Linked DNA regions of Homo sapiens: region 2 is linked to region 1. Evidence: fine-mapped expression QTL. A gene starts in region 1. The other region holds a variant in brackets. All regions are shown on one strand. Distances are from middle to middle. Region 1 holds the start of OCIAD1 (OCIA domain containing 1). Region 2 overlaps TEC (tec protein tyrosine kinase).

The links. PIP is the estimated chance that this variant, and not a neighbour inherited with it, causes the effect.
Region 2: its variant is fine-mapped to the expression of OCIAD1 in spleen (GTEx, PIP 0.95).

The regions. Positions count from the first base shown.
Region 1 is chr4:48,828,374-48,833,758 of GRCh38, forward strand. OCIAD1 (OCIA domain containing 1) reads left to right here and starts at 2,715. Exons shown (of 9, transcript NM_017830.4): 1 at 2,715-2,876; 2 at 4,247-4,309; 3 at 5,028-5,108. The coding sequence starts at 4,252. RefSeq lists enhancers at 2,283-2,662, 2,505-3,068, 3,069-3,631.
Region 2 is chr4:48,160,769-48,166,153 of GRCh38, forward strand. TEC (tec protein tyrosine kinase) reads right to left here. Exons shown (of 18, transcript NM_003215.3): 8 at 2,934-2,999. Among named protein-coding and RNA genes, the nearest start is that of TXK, 29 kb to the left of the region's middle. The variant C/T (reference allele first, on the strand shown) is at 2,337.

The sequences.
Region 1 (5,385 bases):
CAATCAGCAGGATGTGTGTGGGGCCAGATAAGGGAATAAAAGCAGGCCTCTTGAGCCAGCAGCGGCAACCCACTCAGGTCCCCTTCCACACTGTGGAAGCTTTGTTCTTTTGCTCTTTGCAATAAATCTTGCTGCTGCTCACTCTTTGGGTCTGCACCACCTTTATGAGCTGTAACACTCACTGTGAAGGTCTGCAACTTCACTCCTGAGGCCAGTGAGACCATGAACCCACCTGGAGGGATTAACAACTCCAGACGGGAGGAATGAACAACTCCAGATGCACCGCCTTAAGAGCTGTAACACTCACTGCGAAGGTCTGCAGCTTCACTCCTGAAGCCAGCAAGACCACGAACCCACCAGAAGGAATAAACTCCGAGCATGTCCGAACATCAGAAGGAACAAAGTCTGGACACACCATCTTTAAGAACTGTAACGCTCACCGTGAGGGTCCGCAGCTTCATTCTTGAAGTCAGTGAGACCAAGAACCCACCAATTTAGGACACACTATGTGTTAGGCCTGGCTCAGTAAGTATAAAGAATATGATAAAACTGGATTCTGGAATCTTACAATCTAGTCAGGAAGCAAAGAAAAAGACTTTGCTTTAAAGTTGGTGCAGTGGCTCATGCCTATAACCCCAGCACTTCGGGAGGCCAAAGTGGGCAGATCACTTGAGGCCAGGAATTGGAGACCAGGCTGGTAAAGTAGTGAAACTCTGTCTCTTCTACAAATAAAAAAATTAGCTGGGCGTGGTGGTGCACACCTGTGGTCCCAGCTACTCAGGAGGCTGAGGCACAAGAATTGCTTGAATCTGGGAGGCGAAGGTTGCAGTGAGCCGAGATGGCACCACTGTACTACGGTCTAGACAATAGAGCAAGGCCCTGTCCTAAAAAAAAAAACAACAAAAAACTTTGCTTTAACATAAAGCTCACCACCTAGAATGTCTTCTAATTTTTTTATTTTTGTTTCTTCTAGAATGTCTTTTAATTTTCTTATTTTTGTTTTTTCTCCTATAAAAATGCATTCAACAAATTCATTTAAGAAATATTTGTTGGCTTCATATGATCATGTGCCAATCACTGATGCTAGGCAAATACGGCTCCTACTGTCATAGACCTTTTTAGTGAAGAGAGACAATACACAAACAAATCATTGTTTTAGACCATAACAAATACTATGAAAACAATAAGCAAGGTAACATGGAGAGTGACTGGGGTGCCATGTTAATTGGGTGGTCAAGGAATGCCTCTCTGATGTGGTGACATCAACTGAAGTCTCAGACAAAAAGCCACGTTGAACATCTGGAAGAACAGTGGTCTAGAAGAGGGAACAGCAATTGCACAAGCCCTGGGCCCAGAAGTAAATTAGCTTGTCCCAGGAACAAAATGAGTATTAGTTACTAATACTGATTATCTCAGGGATTTATTTGGTTCTATAAAGACTTACAAGCCAACATCTCTGTCCTAAAGGAGCTCTGTAACAGAGACAGACGTAAGTAAAAAAGATCACTATTCAGTGCAAAAGTACATTGCAGTGACAGCAGTATGGACAAGCTAAGGACTAAGAAGGAAGAGTGATTACTTCTCTGGGGTGTATTTCAGGGAAGGCATCACAAAGGTGGTGATGTAAAAGCAGAATTTTGAAATATCGTTAGAATTGACAAAGCAGGGAGTAGAGTTGTACTGGGGAAACAGTGCACAGAGAACACTGAGGGCAAAGACCTCCAGGCTGTTTCTTGTTAGTGAACCCTGAAATAGAAGAAAGTGACGCTCAAAAGGCACAGGCACCACCAGGCCATGATGGGCCTTATATTCGGTGCATGACTGGAGCTATCAAAAGACTCCAAGGAAGGAAACACAGCGTTGGATTCGTTTCACGTGACTGTCTCCCTTAAGTATGTCTTCGGGAGAATAAATGTTAAATGATAAAGTGGCAAAGGGGCTCAGAAAGAGATGAGAAACCTGAGAGGCTTTGAGGGGTTGACAAATAGTAGGACTGGATTTGCCCACTGTTTAGTCACTAATAACTTGCAGTACATGGCACTAATAAATACTTCAGGAAGGAATGTATGAAAATGAGTAAAATGCTGATTGGCTGGGTGTGGCAGCACCATGTCTGATGTGTAGAAGTCGTGAGCCCCCTCATTAATAGACAGTGATGTGTTGTTTTAATTCTAACAACCCTATATGTAATTCCACTTTTCAGGTGAGAAAAACCGTAGCCTCAGAGAGATCACGGTACCCTGCCAGAGGTTGTAGAACTTGTTGGAAACTTGGATCAAGAGGGTGTGACAAATAACCAGGTATGCATGCTTAAAAATTACTTTCTACTACTTAGCCTACAGGCTCAAAGAATGAAATTATCTCATAAAAGAGATAATTTATAAAGTCGCTCTCAAAAGAGGGACAACAGAGGGTTCCGGAACGTTCCCGCCAGCCGCCACGAGAAGACCAGAGAGGTGCATCACAACAGCCCAAAGTCAAGCCTACTCCCAACCCCCTTCCCCGCCATCCAGGGAAGGGGCGGGGCAGGGTTCTTGGTCCGCCGCTGTCGCCTGCGCAGTCGCAGTGCGGCTCGTGGCCGCAGCTGCCTGAAAGGGCAAAGGGACGAGTATACGCATGCGTCTATTCCTAGGCTGCTGGCTCTCAGACCCGCAGTGAGGTCTGACGTCATTTCCTGCCGTAAGTATACAGTGCCTCCGGGTCGCGGTCATTTTGAGCCCCTGTCTGGATGACTTCTTGCGGCTGTTCTACCCCTCCCCCTCCCCGCGGTACCTTGCACTTTTCTCCCTCCCTGCCCCCTCTCGAGTCCACCCTCCGGGCCTTCTGCCCCTGATCGCTTGGTTTTCCTTGCAGTCGCCTGCTGCTGTCGTCGGGAGGTGGGTGAGGTGACGCAAACAGCCCCGTTGTTGCCCTCCGCGTATCCCCTCACCACCTTTGCGGCCATCCACGACTTTCGCACCTTCCGCCATTTTCCTGCCTGTGAGGGTGGACAGATCGCGCTCGGGTCTCGGCCTCCTGAGTGCCGGTGACTGCGGGAGGCGACGGAGTGCTTCTGGGGGTGTGAGCTGGGGAAGTTCGTGGTCACGGATGCGTGTGGGGTTGCTGCTCAGTCTGTAACGGCAGGTGGGAGACGGACACTGGGTGGAGGATGGAGTGCGGTAATCAGCGGTTGTAGGCCGCTTAGGCTTTAATCCAGCGTTGTTTTGTGTAAAGAACTTAAAATGGTATTGTCTTAAGCGCCGTGTCAGCCCTGACAGTCTTCCTGGTGTTTCTAGGAAGGATGCCGTTATGGGAAATAAGAGGGTTTCATTTTTTCTCATACGGTTGTAGGGTAAAGGTAGTTTATTCAGCAGGCTCCATCCATCCATGAATTCAGCTGACCTTTTTTATTTCTTTTCTCTAATTAAGGGGTTGGCATGTAGTAGGCCTTCATGGCTTATTGACTGAATGAATTATGGAAGGGCTCAGTTGCTGTCCTCATTGTGTATGCCATTTCCTGTTTCCATGCAAATTGTTTTTAAAATGAGAATAATCATGATCCCACGTAAACGTTCTGTAAAATACGGTTACTTGATCTGTTGGTCTGAGTCCCAATATATGAGTTTTTAAAAAAAGAACCAAATAAAAAATGTATATTCTTGGAATTTTATGCATTTTTTTCTTATATTCTTGGGGTGGAAGGAAATTTGGAGATACAGAATTTGCTGTTAGTTTTACCTCACAGGGAGAAGGATATGTCGTCTTTGTTATTCCATAATTTTGGAGTGCTCCTTTGTGGGAGAGGTTGAATGTTTCTGATGATTATTTCATTTTTTAATATGGAAGCTCAGAAATGACTTGAAATTTTTTTTCTCTTCTATTTTGGGGAATTATCCTAATCATTGGGCATAGATTCGAGAAACGACCAAAACATAGGATGTGAAAGAACCCACTTCCAGGAGGAAAAAATATGTCTGTTATTTTATTGATATCTTGATAGTAAAAAAAATTATAAACTTATAAAACGCATATGCTTTTTCAATTAAGGGACTTAACCTGAATAGTGAGTTCCAAATTAATCAGTAGGTCTGTTACTTTTTCATCTAGCTATTTACATGTGGAGTACGTAAGATATAGTAGTGTTTAATAAATATTTGTTGATTGATTGCTGTGTAGACTAGTAGTTTTACTATATCATACGTCTTGATTTACTTTGACCTATCTAGTGATAGTTTCTAATACTTAATATGTAATGTTTTTGATACAGGAAAGATGAATGGGAGGGCTGATTTTCGAGAGCCGAATGCAGAGGTTCCAAGACCAATTCCCCGTAACTATCTATTAAGTATTTATAATTAGAAGCACTTCCTATGTAAAGGAATTTTCACTGCCTTGAGTAACAGTGGCAGGTGGGCTGGCTTCATGGGCATGTGCAGACAGCGCCCCATACTTGGTTTCATGTTCTAGTCTTGTTATCTTGAAATTCATAATCATTTGGATAAGGAGTCCCACGTTTTTATTTTGCACTGGGCCCAGCACATTAGGTAGCCAGTCCTGACTAGCAGATAGTAGCATTAATTCTATTTGAAGTCAAAGTTTGTTGAAAGTGTATAAGTGGCCTGGCTCGGTGGCTCATGCCTGTAATCCCAGCACTTTGGGAGGCTGAGATGGGTGGAACACCTGAGGTCAGGAGTTCGAGACTAGCCTGGCTAACATGGTGAAACCCCGTATCTACTAAAATACAAAAAATTAGCCTGGCGTGGTGATGGGTGCCTGTAATCCCAGCTACTCGGAAGGCTGAGGCAGGAGAATCGCTTGAACCCCGGGAGGTGGAGGTTGCAGTGAGCCGAGATCGCGCCATTGCACTCCAGCCTGGGCAACAAGAGTGAAACACTGTCTCAAAAAACAAAAAAAGTGCATAAGCCAGTTGTTTTATTATTTGAGTTTAAAAAATGGGTGCCTCTTGTTAATGTTTAGGCTAAGATAATTTTTCAGACCTAGTTTTATTATGGATAATTTAATGTTTTCTGATTTTCCCTGGTAAAAAGACATAGGGCCTGATTACATTCCAACAGAGGAAGAAAGGAGAGTCTTCGCAGAATGCAATGATGAAAGCTTCTGGTTCAGATGTGAGTTCAATTTTCTAATTAATATAATTTGATCCAAAATTTGTACCTGAAATTTTGACTTGAATTTGAACCTGAAATTATAATAACTCCGTATAGAACAAATTGGCAAACTTTTTGCATAGTGTGGTTGTTGTTAAAAGAGATTAAGGAGATAAAGGAATTGCACACATTTTAAAGTAATTATTTCCAGATTTTTAACAAAACCATGAGGTAATTTTGTTGATAATAGTAATAGTTAGCATTTACTGTGTGTACATAGATTATATAAAAACAACCC
Region 2 (5,385 bases), 670 kb before region 1:
AAAAAGAAAGAAAGAAAAGAAAAGAAGAAAGAAAGAGAAAGAGAAAGAGAGAGAGACAGAGGGAGGGAGGGAGAGAGGGAGGGAGGAAGGGAGGAAGGAATTAATTCAAAAGCAGCGGGTTGAAAAGTAGGGATTTAAAAAAAAAAAGCATGCCACAGAAAAGCTTTATTAGAGGCTAATACCTTTTGATGAAGGAACTATACATCTAGAAATTAGGCCCTGAATTTGTAGGTCATTTGTCAGATTCTTCTTAGATATTAAATCCCTAATGTGAATTAGTTTTTCAGATTAGCTAGTTACCCCAAAATAGCAGTGTCAATAAGGAAAGAAGAGGTTTGAGGGCATTTCATCTTTTAACCCGGAAAGGTCAGACCCTTGCCAAGCTTCTTGGTGAGAATGGGTGAGAATAAATCATGAAAAGAAGACAAGAGGTAGAACAAAGGAAAAACATAAAACCAACCAGTTATACATCTTAGCTTGTTCTCTAATTCTGCCCTTCTAACTATGCCACCCACTCAAAGCCTTTATCCTAAGCTTTTTCCAGTCCTAAGGGCGCTTTCATTTCTGTCACCTTCTCCCTTTACCATCTTTCCACCAAGAACATCCTGTTATTAACCATCACAACGAATCTGCTTTCTTTTCCAGCACTGATCTCTCCGATCTTCTCCTCCCTACACTGTTGACTGGGTATGGAAGTTAGAACTAGGTTACTGATAACACTAGGAGCTGCGGGCCTGGAAATCCTGAGTTCAGCCCAGTGACAGTCTGTGGCCTGGGATTCCTCCTGGGCCCAAGCAAAGAGAACTATTCACTCCACAGCTGCCAGAGGCTTTTTTTTTTTTTTTTTTTAATACTTGAGAACATTTAAGTTGTTGTGATGGTTAATATTGAGTGTCAACTTGATTGGATTGAAAGATGCAAAGTATCGCTCCTGGGTGTGTCCATGACGGTGTTGCCAAAGGAGATTAACATTTGGGTCAGTGGACTGGGAAAGGCAGACCCACCCTCAATCTGGATGGGCACAATCTAATCAGCTGCCAGCACAACCAGAATAAAAGCAGGCAGAAGAACTTGGAAAGACTAGACTGGTTTAGTCTTCTGGCCTACATCCTTCTCCCGTACTGGATGCTTCCTGCCCTCGAACATTGGACTCCAAGTTCTTCAGCTTTGGGACTCAGACTGCCTTCCTTTCCCCTCAGCTTGCAGACGGCCTATTATGGGACCTCAGCTTGTGATCGTGAGTCAGTACTCCTTAATAAACTCCCTTTTATATATACATCTATCCTATTAGTTCTGTCCCTCTAGAGAACCCTGACTAATACAATTGTGTTACAGGGTGGGCTTTGGCCAAAACAAAACAAAACAGAACATGGAGTAGGAAGACAGAATAGGGTCTCTGCCTGCCCACATGGGAACAGGTTTCCCCTTGGTCATCTACTGGGCATGGTACAAAGGCCATGTGGATTCCCTGGCCTCTGAACAGAATGCAGTGGCACTCCCACGCTGGAGGCTGAAGTACAGAGTTATGCAGAGGAAGAAAATTTCTTGGAAGAGAGAAAATTTCCAAATTAAGGTACATTTGAAACACTCGAGGCCATGAATCATAAACTTCAATATTGAAAAACCTCAACTGAAATCACATGAGTCATAAAAGGAGTTCTCATATTTAGATAAGGATTATCTGGCTTCCAAGCATCCTCTTTCCCCAAATTCAATCAGTTCTCCACGCTATCGCTTTAAAACCAGGCCCAAGTTTTCACCTTTTAGCACCTTCCCTAATTCTAAGGATTTTATAATTTTTCCAAAAATCTATTTGACTTAAGGGCAGAAATGCTACTTTATTTATACATTGTTTATACTCTCTTCTACTTCTAAAATTACTTTGAGAGATCACATCCACTGAGCGCTGTGGCTTTTTGAACTTGTTAACCCTTTCCTAGATGTTAAGGTACACTTATGGTATAGCAAGTGACATGAAGAGAGGAACAGCTTGTTGTTGCTATTGTTTTCAAGGAAGTGAATGAAGCATCAATACACCACCTCAGAATGACCATAAAAGAGCGTTCAATGTATATGAGCCTCACGTTACAACTTGGCCACACACTGCTAGTGGGTATATAAATAATACAAGTTATCTGGAAAGCAATTTGACAGCATGCGTTGGGAACCCTAACAATGTTCACGTACAGCCTGTAGCCCAGCACATAGATTTTAGAGATCCAGTTTAAGATAAGAAACAAGACGTTATCCCATTTTTTTTTTAATATAGCAAAGGTACCTAAAACAACCTAAACCACACAAATAAGGAAATGATTACATAAATTATTGGACATCCA[C/T]GTGCCATCTGCCTGGTTATGTCTCTAAGGCCATACATAATGCTTGATACATGCTAAGATCTCAGTAAATATTTAATAAATTTATGATCAAATGAAATAAAATGTAGCTAGGAAAATGTTTTCAAAGAATATTAAAGTGTATGAGGAAATAAGCATGATTCTATCTTTTCAAAAATAGTAAAAAGATTGAAAGGAAATATACTAATGCTGACAAAGGTCAACTCTAATTAATTTCAGTAATTTTTTCTTATTAACATTTCCACTCTGGAAACTGTTCTGCTTATGTCCTGAATGAATGGACATGATCTGTATTTCAAAGTCAGCTAATCTGTGATTTATTTCAAATCAATTCAATTATGCTTATGTAATTTATGTACATAAGCCTATGTAACTCCATTCACACAGTACCTTCAGGAAAAATATATTATAGAGATTAATTCTCAGTCTTTTACCACATCAGGCAATTGAGTTAAGGATATTTTAGCACCCCCTTCAAAGAATCATGAAAGATATCCATTAATCTTCAAAATGCCTTACATAATTAGGAAAATGAAAAGTTTCTGATTTTCCACATTCACAAAATAAACATTTACTTACTCATATTGATCTAAGTTGTTTGATTTCTTTCCCGTTACGTAATTACTTGGGATATATCCTTCATTCCTAGAAATAAGAAAAATACTTTAGGTAAACTTACTTTACTGGGAGGTTATTGAAAGAAAGAAAGATTATTGCCTTTTGAAATAAAGCATGACATTGCTTAAAGCTTATTATAAGAAAGACTAGCTGACCCCCCAAAATGCAGTATCTGTAATTCACTTGACATTTTACAAAGTACTTTCACTTTTGGTCTCCATAAAAATTCTGCGGTAGGCAGGCATTATTGTACCTATTTTCTGGTGGGGAAACTAAAGCTTAGAAAGGTTATAGGATTTTTTTTCCCAAAGGTCCTAAAGTTAGCCAGCAACAGGGCCAGAACTCAAACTCTGGACTTGTGACTAGCTCCTGTGCTCCTCCAACATTCCACAATACTTCTCCAGAATTCACAGTTTTGCTGATATGTGTTAAAGAAACCATTACTTGAGAAAAGTCAAAGTGTTGGATTAAAAATACCCACCACTCTAATACCTCAATAGTTCTTATAGAATAGTTTCACAAAGGATAATTCCTGGCCTTTCGGTCAGTATCATTTGGGGCACCTGTTAAAACAGCAAATTCTTGGGTCATAACCCAATAAATGTGAACTGAGAAGACCTATGTGAGGTCAAAAAATGTCCGATTTTACCCCAAATGACTTTCACACACATCACAATTTAAGATGCACTCTTATGTAAGTAGGAGCTAAGGTTTTCAGCATAAGAAAACAGATATACATATAAAATTTAAAAATTGAGTAGAAACCTTATAATCTTAAATTTGAATTTAAAGTATTAGTAAGAACTCATAATACACACACACACACACAAATGTGTGCATACAGGTAGCTCTGTTGCACTGAGAAAGGCCCAGAAGGAACGGCAATCCAGCAGCAGTTAAGATCTTAGCATTGCCACTGTCTCTAAATACCATTTGTGACTAAAAGGAGCCAGTCCCCCTTAGAAAAATGTCAAATTGTGTCCAGGTGCAGTGGCTCACGCCTGTAATCCCAGCACTTTAGGAGGCCAAGGCAAGCAGATCACTTGAGGCCAGGAATTCAAGACCCGCCTGGCCAACATGGCGAAACCCTATCTCTACTAAAAAATACAAAAATTAGCTGGGCGTGGTGGAACATGCCTATAATTCCAGCTACTTGGGAGGCCGAGGCACAAGAATCACTTGAACCTAGGAGGCGGAGGTTGAAATGAGCCGAGATCACGCCACTGCACTCCAGCACTCCAGCCTGCGAGACAGAACGAGACTCCATCTCAAAAAAAAGAAAGAAAAAGAAAAGAAAAGAAAAATGTCAAATTGTAAGTTTGGCCAGAAAAATAAATACAAGATAACTTGAGCCATTTCACTGAGCCAGAAAGTAGGAAAGAAAAACTAACAGGATCCTCTACCAAAAACAGCCACCATCGACCTAATTTGGCCAATTCAAGCAAAGAGAATAATGGTGGCAATGGATTGGAACCAAATATATAAGTATCCATAATAACACTAAAAATAAACTGTTGGTTACCATTGTTATCACTAGAGAAAGCTCAGTCATCAACTCATTATTCTGAAAACTAGTAAAAGTTTAAGAATCCAAATTTCATCTTTCCTTTCCTTCATGAACTAAATGAACTGGTATATGAGGCAGTTCTTCTTTAGAGAACTACTAAATGCAGATGGAATGACAAAATTAGGAAATCACCATTTTGTAACCCCTAATGAAATAATGACTCTAAGAAAGAATCATTAATGAACCCCCAAATCATCAGGGTAAATACCAATGAAGAACTTTATGACAGAGGAACAAGTCTGACACCTGAACCACTAAGCAATCTTAGCATTACTAAAAGTAGGACATCCAGAGATCACCTTCTAATGTGATCAAGCCTCTAGCTCTACTCGCCAGTTCACAAGAAATACAAGAAACACAGGCATATTAAGTGACACCACAAGAAAACAATCTGTTTCATCTAGATTATGGCTCATTTTAGTGTTAAATGACCTGCTTTCATCAATAAATCAAAAATGTAGAATAAGAGAAACATAAGAGATATATTAACCAAAATGCAGTGTGTGGGTCCTGATTTGAATAAACCAACAGTAAAAATAAGTATTAGAGCTAATCGGGGAAACTGGAATTACATAATTGGTTCCATCCTTAGACCTGGGCCAGAGAAGCTCTTGCTCTAACCCCACACTTTTGAGAGCTCTGCAAAAGTGCGTGTTCCCTCTGACCTGTGTTCCCATGCTCCTTTCTGGGTAACTAGGACCCCAGAACACCCTGCTCATTTCCAAGGTCTACATGGGCCTTCTACTGGGTCCATCTTCTAAAAAACAAATTGTGCTGGCTGGCCATGTGCATTCCCTTTCACTGAGGCTGAAGGTGTGGCCATGATGCGGGGTAGCTTTTGCAAGC